2 linked regions of the Homo sapiens genome follow. The protein of the gene in region 2 purifies or fractionates together with the protein of the main gene of each other region. This does not show direct contact. Each region holds a gene or a part of one and is shown on either strand. Other genes may lie near its edges.

The links. Proteins that work in one complex are often made in the same cells at the same time.
Region 1: the proteins of SMYD2 (region 2) and EPB41L3 purify together in Homo sapiens (affinity purification with western blotting; 2 studies listed by BioGRID and IntAct, with this or other methods). This does not show direct contact.

The regions. Positions count from the first base shown.
Region 1 is NC_000018.10:5,533,959-5,540,997, forward strand, and holds part of EPB41L3 (band 4.1-like protein 3), read right to left. Parts: intron 6,467-7,039; exon of another isoform or gene 6,382-6,466; intron 1-6,381. UniProt on the Homo sapiens protein: Tumor suppressor that inhibits cell proliferation and promotes apoptosis. Modulates the activity of protein arginine N-methyltransferases, including PRMT3 and PRMT5.
Region 2 is NC_000001.11:214,277,187-214,284,167, reverse strand, and holds the start of SMYD2 (N-lysine methyltransferase SMYD2), read right to left. Parts: upstream 3,010-6,981; 5' UTR 2,914-3,009; coding exon 2,741-2,913; intron 1-2,740. UniProt on the Homo sapiens protein: Protein-lysine N-methyltransferase that methylates both histones and non-histone proteins, including p53/TP53 and RB1. Specifically trimethylates histone H3 'Lys-4' (H3K4me3) in vivo. The activity requires interaction with HSP90alpha.

The DNA.
Region 1 (7,039 bases), on a different chromosome or scaffold from region 2:
TCGAGACCAGCCTGGCTAACACAGTGAAACCCCGTCTCCACTAAAATACAAAAAATTAGCAAGGCGTGGTGGCGGGCGCCTGTAGTCCCAGCTCCTTGGGAGTCTGAGGCAGGAGAATGGCATGAACCTGGGAGGCGGAGCTGGCAGTGAGCCGAGATCTCGCCACTGCACTCCAGCCTGGGTGACAGAGCGAGACTCCGTCTCAAAAAAAAGAAAAAAGAAAGAAAAAAAGAAACCCAAGCATTCTGAGTCCAAGGCCAGGTTTCTTTGCTCTATGCTAAACATTTTCTTCAACCTTAGTACTATTTATTTATATTATATCTTCTTTCCAGGTTAAACGCTCATTTGACAATAGTGAAGAAGCTGGAAAGTCATTAAGACAAAAGTCGTTAAGACAGTGTGTCTCAAAATGTGGTCCTGGGACCACCTGGATCAGATTTCACCAAAGTACTTGTCGGGACATAAGGAGGTCTGGATCCAACTGCAGATCTATTAGATGATAATCCGTGGATTGGTCCCCAAAAATTCCTTTTTAATAAACTCATCAGGTAATTCTGTTGTATAACCACTGTGTCTCATTCTTTGCAAACCTCTACTGTTATCTGGAGTTTCATACTCAAAAAATTCTGCATTCTCATAGAGGGCCATCTTTTGGATTACGGGTTTTGTGGTGGAATGTCACAAAATTCTACACTCATCCTGAGGGTCATCTTTGGATCTTACAATTACTAAGACATGTCCCTAAAAACAAGCAAAGAGGACAACAGCATATACTACTGAAATGAGAAAACATGTACTATGTGTATACTCTCATTAGACTGGTTCTAGATGTCTTCAAACACAGATCTCATTTCAACCTGGAGGTAGGCAGCATCGTCATCTGTTCACTCTGGGGAACCTTGCCTAGAGAAATAGAGTACTCCTCCCACAGTTACCTAGCTCAAGGTTAGCAGATGTTTCCATCTGTATCTTCTCTAGCTCTTTGTATTTTCTTTATTCTGCAACAAGGATTCCCCACCACTGGGCCAAGGACAGTGGTGGTGAGCGGTGGGTGAGTCAGCATTACCACCTGATCTCCGCCTCCTGTCAGATCAGAAGTGGCATTTGATTCACATTCTTGAGTGAGAATGTGAGAATGTGAACCGCACACGTGAGGGATCTAGGTTGTGCATTCCTTCTGAGAATCTGATGATGTGAAGTGGAACAGTTTCTTCCTGAAACCATCCCCCACAACCCCCGTCCATGGAAAAACTGTCTTCCATGAAACCCCAACCTCTGTGCCAAGGACAGGGCCACACAGCAGGAGGTAAGCAAAATGGAGGTCCTTGGTGCTAAAAAGGTTGGGGACCCCTGTTCTACAATATAACTCCCCCCAATGAATTACTGCTCTCATTTCAAGAATTCAGAGGAAAAGTTTTCCAGACTTCTTGAGCAGACAACCTAGTCAATCTCTATTTTCCAAGTCTTATACTTAGCCAGTAAGCATATTCCTTCTAAAGTTAATAAAAGTTGTCACTGAGTAGCACAAAATGGTATAAAACACCAAAATTCATCAAGAATAATTCTCTGTAATGAAACTACCCAAAACTCCCTATATCTCTGGGATGTTAGTAACTCTAGGAAAAAATTACGTAGAAATATGCAACTGTCCGGGCCAGCCTGAGACCTCTAGATGCCCCGATGGCATCATCTCACAGAAGCCTGGGTGCACCATTCCAGCTAGCACCACCTTCAGGATCATAAAGCTATTCTCCCCAAATTGGTGAATGAAGACTGGATTCCAAGTAAATCCAAGATCAGTCAAAATCATGGGATTGTGAATAACATAACAGAGCAGCCCACATCCCTGACGAGGTGGCATAAAATCTGTGAATGGAATATGACATTTGTTACCATTCTGTTGTTGAGGACGAAGGAAGGGTTGGGAACTCAGAGAGAGATCAAAGGAAGCTTAATATTTTCCATCTCTGGGAGCCCAGTGACCCCGTACACCTACTAAACTATCCCAGACCCTGGATATTTTGATTCTGGAGAGTCTAGTTCAGGTCCAGACTGCTGCATCTGCTGTCCCTCGAGGCATGCCAAGAGGCACATGGGAGAATGATGGGCACCCAGGAACTCAGGTTAGGCTTTGCTGGATGAGCTCGCCCCTCTATAAAGAGATGACATTAAAATCTAAATTTAAAAAAGTCAGGAAATCTATGGTGAAAATTTGCTTGTTTTAGTTTGTTAGAACTCAATATTCACACACAACATTGAGATATACATAATAATCATCAGAGATTTTAATTTTTTTAAATATCCTGTTTTACCACAAGCCTCCTGATGTGTATATTAGAAGAGAGTCATGAAGTGTAGGCAGCAAGCAGAAGGAGGCAGAGGGGCTGGACAACAAGGCTTCACATCAACACCATCATTAAGGTAATGATCCTTTATCAATATTGCACAAGACCAAAAGAAAATATTTATTTACCATTAAAAATAATGATGTGGGTATAGATTTGCATGCATGAAAAAGCTCCTCCGAGACATACTGTTACATTTAAAAAAAAAAAAAATTTGGCCTGGTGCGGTGGCTCACACCTGTAATCCCAGCACTTTGGGAGGCCAAGGCGGGCAGATCATTTGAGGTCAGGATCATTCGAGACCAGCCTTGCCAACGTGGTAAAACCCCATGTCTACTAAAAATTCAAAAAAAAAAAAAATAGCTGGGCAGGGTGGCGGTTGCCTATAATCCCAGCTACTTGGGAGGCTGAGGCAGGAGACTCGCTTGAACCTGGGAGGCTCACTTGAACCCGGGAGGCAGAGGTTGCTGTGAGCTGATATCGTGCCACTGCACTCCAGCCTGGGCAACAGAGTGAGACTCTGTTCTCAAAAAACAAACAAACGAAACAAACAAACAAAAAATGGTTACATAGAAGTATTTAAGACAGAAGTCTATTCATGTAAAATATTATGTAATCTACATATGAGTCTGTATATGTACAAAATGATGCTACTGCTATTTATGAAGCACTTGTGATATACCAGATACTGTGCTCAGTGTTTGCATGTATTACATCATTTAATCCTCATATCCTTCAGATATAAGCATTATGCCCATTTTATAAACGAGCAAACAGGCTCTAGGAAGTTAAAAGAACCATGCCACATAGTTATTAAATAGCAAGGCCGAGAGCCCAACCCAGGTGTGTCCTATTCCACTCTGATACGTAATACATTCAGAAAGGTAGATAATGACATTGCCTTTTTTGGTTTTTCTGTATTGTTAGACTATATTTTAAAGTGAGAATGTATTATTTTTAATATCTCAAATAACTGAGATACATTCATTGAAAGGATAAGGAAAATCTTCCCATATTTCGTATATCTCATTTTCTACCTTAAACAATCCAAAAGTAGTATTTAATCCTCAGTTAAATACTCCCACAAAAAGATGGAATGAATTGCCAAAATATCAATCATTGAGAGAAAAAAACATCACATTCAATTTCTGCAAAATTTTGGATAACTCCATTAACTAAAGACCATCTGTCTCCAGATTCCTATTCTTCCAACTCATCCTACACTTATCACCAGAAAAAATATTCTTCTTCCCTACTCAACCACTTTCAATAACTCCCCACTACCTAGCAAAGCCCCAAATATCCCTTAGTCTCATATCCAAAAACCTTCCACAATCAGGCCTCACACTCCCTACTTAGATGCACCTCCCATTACTCCCCAGCATACAGGCTATATTCCAGCTAAAGGCAGGTCTCTTGACTTCTGGAATGTCCTATCTGGAATGTCTTCTCAATGACTAATTGAGAGTCTCTATCAAAATCCAGTCATCTTCCCAAGGCCAAAATGGAAAGTCAAAATGGGAAATGAAGAATTTTCAATAGATTTTCCCTATAAAAGGATCCTTTTATAGGAAACAATCAATAATACATAGAAAAACAATCACTGATACACAGAATGGACAGTGTAAAATAAGCATTACATATTATAAAGTACATTTCAAAAAATTGCATAGCCAAATGATAAACCATATTTCATAAGATTCATGACACTGATTATAAGAGATAACATCATGTTGTATAGCACTCTGCCAATTAAGCTATGACTCACACATTTTTAGAAACTGGAATTTTCATTTTCTTCTTATCTAAAGAACTCTGATTGAGTTATTCAACGCATAAAGAAAATATAAACAAAATAGATTGGCCAAGGTGTTCCCAAAAATTCTTACATATTCAGAATCCAACTCTACCAAATTGCACGTCAACTAAGAGTTACTGCTGTCTATGCTTTTCCACACAATATCAACTTGGGTCACCACGAGCACTAGAAATGTATCACTTAAGAGTGCTCCATTACTGTCTCCAGGATTTTCTCCAATCCACTAACATCCAATGTCCAATTTTTGATGCATATTCACAAACAATGAATTAAGTTGCCAGCTTTTTCTCTGCAACATGGCTGAGAGCCATGTAAGACATATCCCAATTTCAGAGATGTTAAATGTGAAAAAATAACTTTCTTTTAGAAATGATGAAATTTGGGGCTTGAATCAAATACAAAGAAACTCGCTATTTGAGGATGTAAACACAGGCATGTACAAAAATGACCAAAGAAGAGAGAGCTAAAACAGAAAATAGTTTTCCTCTCTTTAGTTGAATGCTAGGAGATCAATATCATCTCCCAGCACTAATCCTTTTCAGCTTTTGTCACCCTACCATTTGATCCCTCCCCTCTTCAGAGGACACCCTCCACACTGATGTCCTCCATGACACCAATTAGAGCTGGCAGGAAAGGAAACCGACTCCCTGCAGTTCTTCCCTCAAAGAAACCATTCTTCTTTTCTCTTGGTACCTGCAGAATTCTCTTCCCTGATATGGCAAAACCTCTAGGATCTACCAATTTGAGCTACAGACAGAGGTAACAACCTTGTTATGAAGAGGACCACGCCATTAAAAATAATGACTACATACATGAGTCTGGTAATTCTCATTTTTAAATAAAGCAGCAGTGCTTTTTAAGCTTTCTCCAAGATTTTTTTTTTTTTTTTTTTTTTTGGTAGTAAAGCGTAAGTTACAAATGGCCCCATTTTTTATACAATTTCGTAAGTATTTACTGAATGCTTTAAGTGTCTAGACCTTTACTTGGTTTGGGAAAGAAACCTGAAGAGAAATAACTCCCTATCCTCATCAAGCACCCACCCAATATAACTGGAGAGAAAAATATATACTCAAGGCAGGTTAAATATTACATTTGTTTTCTAGGTCTAATATAGACCTTTCTGCTTTCTCTCTCTCTCTCTCTCTCTCTCTGTTTTTAGTTTGTAAGGCAGGGTTATAAGAACAATGTATCAAAATGTCAGCAATCTAAAAATTAAGTTGTCAGCTTTTTCTCTGTACTGCAAATTACAAAAGAATTGGTGCTAATAGAAGCTTACAATTCCAAAGTATGCAATTTAACCAATCATCGCAAGGACTAAAAATGCAACACCAAAGACATTTCAACCAAGTAATCTGCAGTTCTGGCATCTAATTTCAACTTGTCTTCTTGTGCCATTCTTCCCAATTTGTTTCTTCTTTATGCTTTGAAACTGTGCTCTGGAATTGCTACATAGTTAAGAAAGAACTGCCCAGAGCTCCTACATACATAATACACTCACATGAAAAATGTCAGTCATGGAAAAGACAAGGAACATCTGCAGCCATTCTGTGGTTCTTCATTTTTTATGCTGATATTACTATAAATTCAGAAAGGAAAACATGAAATATACTTTATTGCTTCCGAATTTCAGTCTTATCATTTATTCAACACTAATTTGGGTGAAATATGTCTCTGATCATCTCTGCACTAGAATTCTAAATTAGGATTAAAATGCTAAATTATAAAATAATTAGTACATAAAACAAAAATGGAAATGGAAATCAATTACTCCAAATCACTGCAGATATCTTCTACTTATGAAACACCTTTTTCCATTTTTTCCTATTGCCAACTGCAATCACATCACTTAAAAATAAATGAGAACATTGCCTACCCAATAAGTAAATTGCATCTTTAGAGAGACCACATACTTTTTTTAAAAGACATTACTAATAACCTAAATCAAGAATTTAAAAAGAATGCTGTTTTAGTACAAAGAACAGTAAGAAATATGTTGCCTCAATATATAAATAAAAATATACTCATTTTTCTTGTTCTTTAATTTTGTAAATGGCCCTTCTAAAAAATTACAGTTTTCTCTACAAAAGGAATATTCAGTGCTTTCTACTATTTCACAAAAAACAAACAAACAAAAAACGTCTCCTTCCTTACTCTTGGAGACACATTTTCCCATGCAGTCTTATATTCATTTACACCTTTCAATTCTCCAAACAATACCTCGCAATGCAGTTCAACTTGAGAAAGGAGTCTCATTGATTGATCAGGCAAAGTTTTAAAGCCAGCAAGATGCTTCAGATGGTCTGGTTTTGCCTGCCCCACCCTTGTTTCCTTTGAGCCATAGTGATGTCACAACACCAGGCAGGACAATGACTTCACTGCTCCAGTCCTTGCTTCTGAGCACAGAATTCCCCACAGCCAAGGCAAATCAAATAACAGCAGAACCCTCCCGGGCTGAGTGCCTGATGAATTCCCAACAAATCAGCAGCTAGCTAGCCGTTTGAAAGAAATAGATGCAGCGATTGCACGATTAAGGATCTCTCTAACTGAAGTGGTGCTAAAGATAAATTTGATTCATAGGTTTCAATGGTGAGTCTATATTTCACGGAAAACTGATGGGGTACTTAGGGGAGACTATGGGAATTAAAGACGGCCAGGGTAGATTACTCAAGAACCCTCTCTCCGCCGGGCGCGGTGGCTCACGCCTGTAATCCCAGCACTTTGGGAGGCCGAGACGGGTGGATCACGAGGTCAGGAGATCGAGACCATCCTGGCTAACACAGTGAAACCCCTTCTCTACCAAAAATACAAAAAAATTAGCCGGGCGTGGTGGCGGGCGCCTGTAGTCCCAGCTACTCGGGAGGCTGAGGCAGGAGAA
Region 2 (6,981 bases):
GATAGGGACAGCTTCCAAGTGGAAAAACTTTATATAATATTATTAGGAGCTGCCTTCTAGCAGTTCAGGCAAGATACGCATGTTCTCCAATGGCACCCACCAGACTGAGAAATGTGATACAAATTAAAAATTCCCCAAAGCAAACCTTTGTCTGAATTGCCCTGACCGTAAGAATCCCATTCTGTTGAGACTTAAGACATTTTCCATTATTTCTCAATTTATAGCATATACTTATTCCTACCTAAAGAAATCACTTTTCTTTTCTTCAAAAAAAGTTAGATCCTGATACAATTAGTATGACATGGAAATTCTTGGGTCATTCATTTATCTTAAGCAGTATTGTTTATGTTAAACTTCTGGCAAAAGAAAGGATAAGGGGTAGCTTTCTTTTGGGTGTGTGGAGCTGGGGCAGGCAGCAGATTTTGACCTGTAAGTATGAACATTTCCAGAATTCTACTCCTATACTTTGAGGCCCTATGGAGGAAAATACACGTTCCCCTCATACATCTGGACAGACTGATTTGTCCTAAGTCATATACAAATTGCTGACAGAGGAACTGATGCTGAATCTATCAGATGACCTAACCACTAATAGTAAATGATTCAGATTTAATAGAAATCATGAAGTAGGGTACAAGGATATTTCTAATTGCATAAGTATCATGGATATTATTTCTTTTGTATTATTTTAATTGACTTCAAATAATTCTTTGGGGAGAGAGAGGAAATAAACTACGGGTATTGACATAAGGTCAGGGAAATCAAACAGAGAAGTGGTTTGCAAGTTGTAATAACACCCCATTGCAAGTTGCAGCCCTGGTGAGGGACCCAAGGCAACAGTGAGTAACACTAATAAATGTCAATCAGAAAAATTTAACAACAAAAGAGGCAGCAAACTGTCACATATGGCAGAATAATCCAGGCTGAATGCTTTGTGAACTTGCATCTGACCATCCATTAATGTTCTAAGGTTGGGGGTATGCGTAGTAGATACAATTAGGAGACTTAAAGCTAAAGAGAAGCATCTCTCAGTTCTTCTCATCCCTTCTAAATCCAGAGGGATTTGATCTTTCATTCACTGGGGGCCAGGGCTGGCAACTACCCATATAAAGTAAGCACCTACTATGTGCCTGGCATCCATGGTCTTAGGCGATGGCTTCCAGGAATTGCCAGGATCCCTGATGGAGGCTCCTTCTGTGCTGCCTGACCTGCTTTGCTCCTGCCACTGCAGACACCCACGCTGCTGCAGACTCCGAGCCACAGCAAGGCTCAGAAGATCAAGGGACCAGTCACAGCAGCCTTTTTAACTTTGGGAAAACCCAATGCTCACTTCACTCAAACGTTGCAAAGTGGTGCCATGACCCTTTAGCTCTTGGCTCACCAATTCAAAGAGCCACATCACATACAGCCCTTAAGCTGCCCACGGCATGATTCCGTGTCTAGTTCCTTTCCAGGTCCCCCCAAGCGGAAGACAGTTCTGGCAGGGAGTCTGGGCAAGATTACTACAATATTTAGCCTTTGTCCCTTCTTTTGCTACGTCTTATTGTAGAATGAGGCACACAGGTCTGAGAGATTGAGTATGCTGGACTTGAGACCTGTACTCAAAAGGTCCCTGCAGGACCGCAGGTCAGCTTAATCCAGCCCAGGAATCTCCATTTCAAAGATGAAGAAACTGAGGTTCAAAGAAAGCAAATCATGGTCTCTACTCAGAGTACTGGAAGGCCTGATATAAACTTAACCCCAATGCCATGCCTCCTGCCTTAGTAAATTTACTGAGCACCTAACCAGTGAGAAATAGGCAGAAGTGAATAAGGCCAGATTTCACTCCCTTCACTACTGGTGTGAATGGATAAAGGTAACTCCACTTTCTCTCTGGGCTTTAGTTTTCTCATCCATTAAGTGAAAGACAAGACTGAATTGGTGATTTCTAATGTGCCTTTAAGCTCTGAAACTCTCATAAGAGTTGAGGATATAATTATGTGTTGGTGTGTGCAAATGTATATGCATCATATATACAAACACAGACACATATATACATATGGTATCTTACAATTAAATACCATTAGCAACCACACATCTTGCCCAATCCCTTCCTGCGACCATGTTTTCCTAATCCCAAACCGAAACTGGACACTGCAACTCATCGTCGCAGCACCTCAGAATCCAGGGGGTGTGGTCAGTGCCCACTGGCGTCCCTCCAAACACCCATGTAAGCGTACTTTAACATGTAAGCGTACTTTACAAGACATATACTAAGTCATTAAATTCCTTGGAAGAAACGGCCAATCTGAGGCAGGGCTGGACTGTGGGTAACAGAACACACCGCAGGAAGCATAAGTTAAAGGTGACAGCCCGTGGCTGCCCAAATTTGGGGCTCCGCTGCCAATGCACCGGGAGGGCAGTGAGTGCCCAGGCTTGGAACAAGCCTGGCTCGGAGCCCACATTTGAGGGCAGGAACCTGCACGCCCGGGTTTGCGCATCCAGCGTGAGCAACTCTGAAAACGTGCAGTGCAGGGCGTGCAGCGGGGCACCGGTCCTGTTTCCTCTCGCACGTGGCGCCTGGCGTGGGGCTGCAGCGCGGGGCCGCAGCGCGGGGCCTCCTCCCCTCCCCGCCCCCCACCCCGCCCCAAGGGCCGGCGCTAGGACCCCGCGAGCCGCACGCACTTCCTGGCGCCGCCGTCCAAGCCTCCCGCTCGGCGCCCCCGGCTCCCGCCCGCCGCCGCCGCCGCCGCCGCCCTACCTGGTGAAGCAGTACTCGCAGTGGTTGCCCCGCTCGTTGACCGTGAGCACGTAGGCATAGGCCGGGCAGGAGAACAGCAAGTCCCCCACCTGGAAGGGCTGCAGAGCCCGCAGCCCCCGGCCTTTGCCCGGGCTGCAGAAGCGCTCCAGGCCGCCGAGGCCCTCGGCCCTCATGGTGGCGGCGGGGCGCGGCCGCCGGCTGTGCCCGAGCTGCGGCTCCCGGCGAGCTGTTATTGGAGACGCGTCACCTAGAGCTGCGGGGGGCGGGGTGGGAGCCGCCCGGCGGACGCGGCGGCGGCTCCCCGCTCCCCGGAAGGGAGGGCGGCCCCGCCCGGGCCTCGCGCGCCCCCGCGGGGAGGGGGACGGGCCCGGCGGCCCCGCCTAGCGCCGCGACCCTCGGCGGCCGCCCCGCGCGCGCTCCGGGCCGTTTCCGGTGTGGCCGCGACAAAGAGCCGCAGCCCCTGTGGCTTCTGCGAGGAGGCGTGAGGCGTGTGCGCCTCCGCGGCGTCTCCACGGAGCGAGCGGGACGCGCCCTCCTCCTCGGTGGGAGGGAGGGGGGTCACCTGCGGGGACCAGGTATCCGAGGGCCACCCCTAGACAGTCAGCCTGGCCCGAAGGATGACCAGCCCCCGGTAAATAGAAGGGGGCGAAGCCAGCTCCGAAACCTTACGTTCGCTGTCCCTTGTAAAGACCCTAGAGGCAGTGATCGGGGAACGCCAAGGAGAAAGCGGCAGAGGGGAAACCACAGTAGAGAAGTTTGGTGTGCAGAGGGTTGAAGTGTGCTTTTCCAAGGTTAGAGGTTTTTAAACCTTGTGGCTTTAATGGGAACGTAGTTTGCCCTCTGCTCCTCTAGTGGAATTACATGGACGGAAGAGGAAATGCATTGGCCGGCCCAGCTCACCGAGTCTCTGAGGCATGCTGCGAACGTTGCAGAGGAAGCCAGAGAGAACCTTGCCTTCAAGGAATTTAGGCTGTTGGGGGATAATGCGATGCTGTGGCCAGTGTCCAGGACACTGCGCTAGAGTTTGCAGTAGTTTTAATATGCTTGACCACCCACGAACTGTGATCTTAGAAAAGTCACTTGGGTTAGGAGTCAAAGGATTTAAAGCCCACAAAGCCTGAAACGTAAATCCTATACACATGCACGCTATTACTTTTCATATGAGAAAGGAAAATATAATCCGTGTTCCACATGATTATGTAAAGACTGGAATTGATGTACATGCAGTAAAGACTAAAATTGTGACGAGATCATTTAGCAGAAACCACTACTTCAAAATAGGACCTCAAACAGTTACCTGTGTAAGTTCAGGACTGGTTGAGCAAAGGGAAAGGATTAATATGATTGGAGATGTAAAATCAGTGGAATTTTTGGCATTTCAGTAAAATGTCTTTATCAGCTGGGTGTGGTGGCTCAGCCCTGTAATCCCAACACTGTGGGAGGCCAAGGTGGGAGGATCATTTGAGCCCAGGAATTGGAGAGTTGGAGACCAGCTTGGGCAACATAAAGACCCCGTCTCTATGGGAAATTAACCACCTCTCAAGTGGTGCTGAGGTGGGAGGATAGCTTGAGCCTGGGAAGTCAAGGTTGCAGTGAGCTGTGGTGACTCCATTATACTCCAGCCTGGGTGACAGAGCAGGACCTTGTCTCAAAAGAAAACAAAAAAGCCCTTATTAGTGGCAAACTAAATAAGCCTCTAACCCGTCTTCAAGTAAAGGAAGTTATGATAGTATTTTCATTTATGCATTTTAAGAAACTTCGACTGACTATGGCCAGCAACTGGGATAGAAAGATGGACATCAGCCGGCTGTGGTGGCTCACGCCTGTAATCCCAGCACTTTGGGAGGCCGAGGTAGGCGGATCACCTGAGGTCGAGAGTTCAAGACCAGCCTGACCAACATGGAGAAACCTCATCTCTACTAAAAATACAAAATTAGCCAGGTGTGGTGGTGCATGCCTGTAATCCCAGCTACTCGGGAGGCTGAGGCAGGAGAATCGCTTGAACCTGGGAGGTGGAGGTTGCTGTGAGCCAAAATCGCACCATTGCACTCCAGCCTGCGCAAGAAGAGCGAAACTCTGTCTCAAAAAAAAAAAAAAAAAAAAAGTGGACAAAATGTAGTCCTAGGTCCTTGCATTTGGCACATTCAAGTTTGATAATACCATTAGTTATTGAGTATTGTTGACCAGGCATCGTGCTCCATCATTAAACACATTATCTGGTTTATCTTTACAACAGGCTAATGAGTTAGGTATTATGCCCCTCATTGCCAAAATTAGGAAGGAAACTAAGACCCAGAAGGAATGATTTTCAAGGCCACACAATAAATTGCAGAATTTGGTTTCCAAGTCAGTCTGAATTCAAGGTCCATGTTCCTAACCACAGTGTTTTGCTGCAAACAAACACAGTTCACTGGGATAAGTGCAGTTATGGTGGCTTGTACAAAATGTTCTGTGGTAGTACAGGCAGGGAGTGACAGCTTTAGCCTGCTAAACAGTCAAGACAGGCATCACATTCAAGTAACGTTAGAGCTGAGCCTGAAGGATGGACAGGATTTTGCAAGTGGAGGTGGGGAGAAGAGTTTTCTGGGCAGAGAGAACTGCGTACAAAGACAGAAGACCCTGAAAGCACAGAGCTTGTAGTTGGGGGCCCCTGAGCATCTGGAAGAGAGGACAGGAAATGAGGCAGGAACAGCTGAAGAGCATCTTCTCCAGAGGTGAGTTCTGCCCCAGAGGCCATGGGAGAGCCAGTTAAAGCGTTTAAGTGAGGGGTGGCACATTGAGTCCAGTGTTTTAGACTGATCTGCCAGCAGCATTGTGGGTTGGCTGGGGTGCCAACATTCAGCACTTCATAACTGTTTACATGTATATAAACAGCCTTGGCATGTGAGACCACTGACAGTTTGCATTTGTCTGTGTGATGACCTGATTAGTGTTTACATCCTCCACCAGACTGTACAAGCTCCATGAGGGCAGGGAATGAGTCTGTTTTTGTTACCCTTACATCACCAGCTCTTATCACTACTCCTGGAACACAGAGAGAATGGAAAAAATATTTAAAGGTTGAATAAACGTCATGGAATCTCATTCTGATTTCTGGGGGCTCTAACCAGCAAAAAGATGAAAAGACTGACGTAGAAGTAAACAATTACAATACAGTAGACAGTTTACTGTTTCAATGATTAATTGTGCAAAGTAATCTACCTGTTTACTTTTTTTATTGCAAGTAACTTTTTCCACTTTAATTGGGAAAGATTTCCACAGCTGAGAAAAAAGCAATTACATAGCTACCGAATTATCTTTCCAGATGAGTGCTGGCTTATTCTTGAGGGTGGAGGTGACTGTGATTTGAGAACACTGGAAAAGAAACCGCCTCATTTCAGAAAAATCCCTGTGATGAACTTAAATGACTCGAGATGGGGAAATGGTCACTGAAGCAGTAGCCATGAATTTAGGAGCTTAAATTACTAAGAAAACTGTGTTTAAAATAAACAGCCAAAGAATGGCAATAAACCAGCCCGGGGAGACTGATGACAGCGCTCTTCATGAAGCCCATACTTGTCACTCTGCCACTCTGTAATCTCACATTCCGTGAAGTCTTTGAGCAGCCAGGACCCATCCACTTTTCCTACGCCCTCTGCTCCATAACGTAGGAGGTATGGAATTTGAAAGGAGTGTTTTTGGTTACTTTGCCTCACTGAAACTCAGGAGAAGTGGTACAAGGACGAAAACTCCTTTGCTTAATTTCTCTAACCTAGAAGTTGATCTAATTTATGAGTAAAAGATCCTTCCAACCACAGATTAGCACATGAAAGAAATAGCTCTGGCCTAGGGAAATGAAGCCTTAGCAAAGAAGGTATCCCAGTGAACGTGAGCAAAGGGCCTAGATGCTGTATAGTTCTGCATCTATGTCTACATGTCACTTATTGAGGACATACTATGTACTTACACTGTGATAGATCCTAGTCATACCAAGGTGTAAAGACCAACATACATGAAAACAGTTATGAAGTGCTGAATGTTGGCACTCATAGATATTAGGTTCCAATCCCTGGAATCTATAAATGGCTTCAAAGGGTCTTGCAAATGTGTTTTAAGGATCTTGAGAGAGTGAGAGTATCCTGGAACATCCAGGTGGGTTCTCTGTGCAGTTGCAAGTTTTCTGATGAAGGACAGAAGGAAATTTGACACAGACAGGAGAGGAGGCAGCAATGTGACTATGGAGGCAGTGATGAGAGGGATAC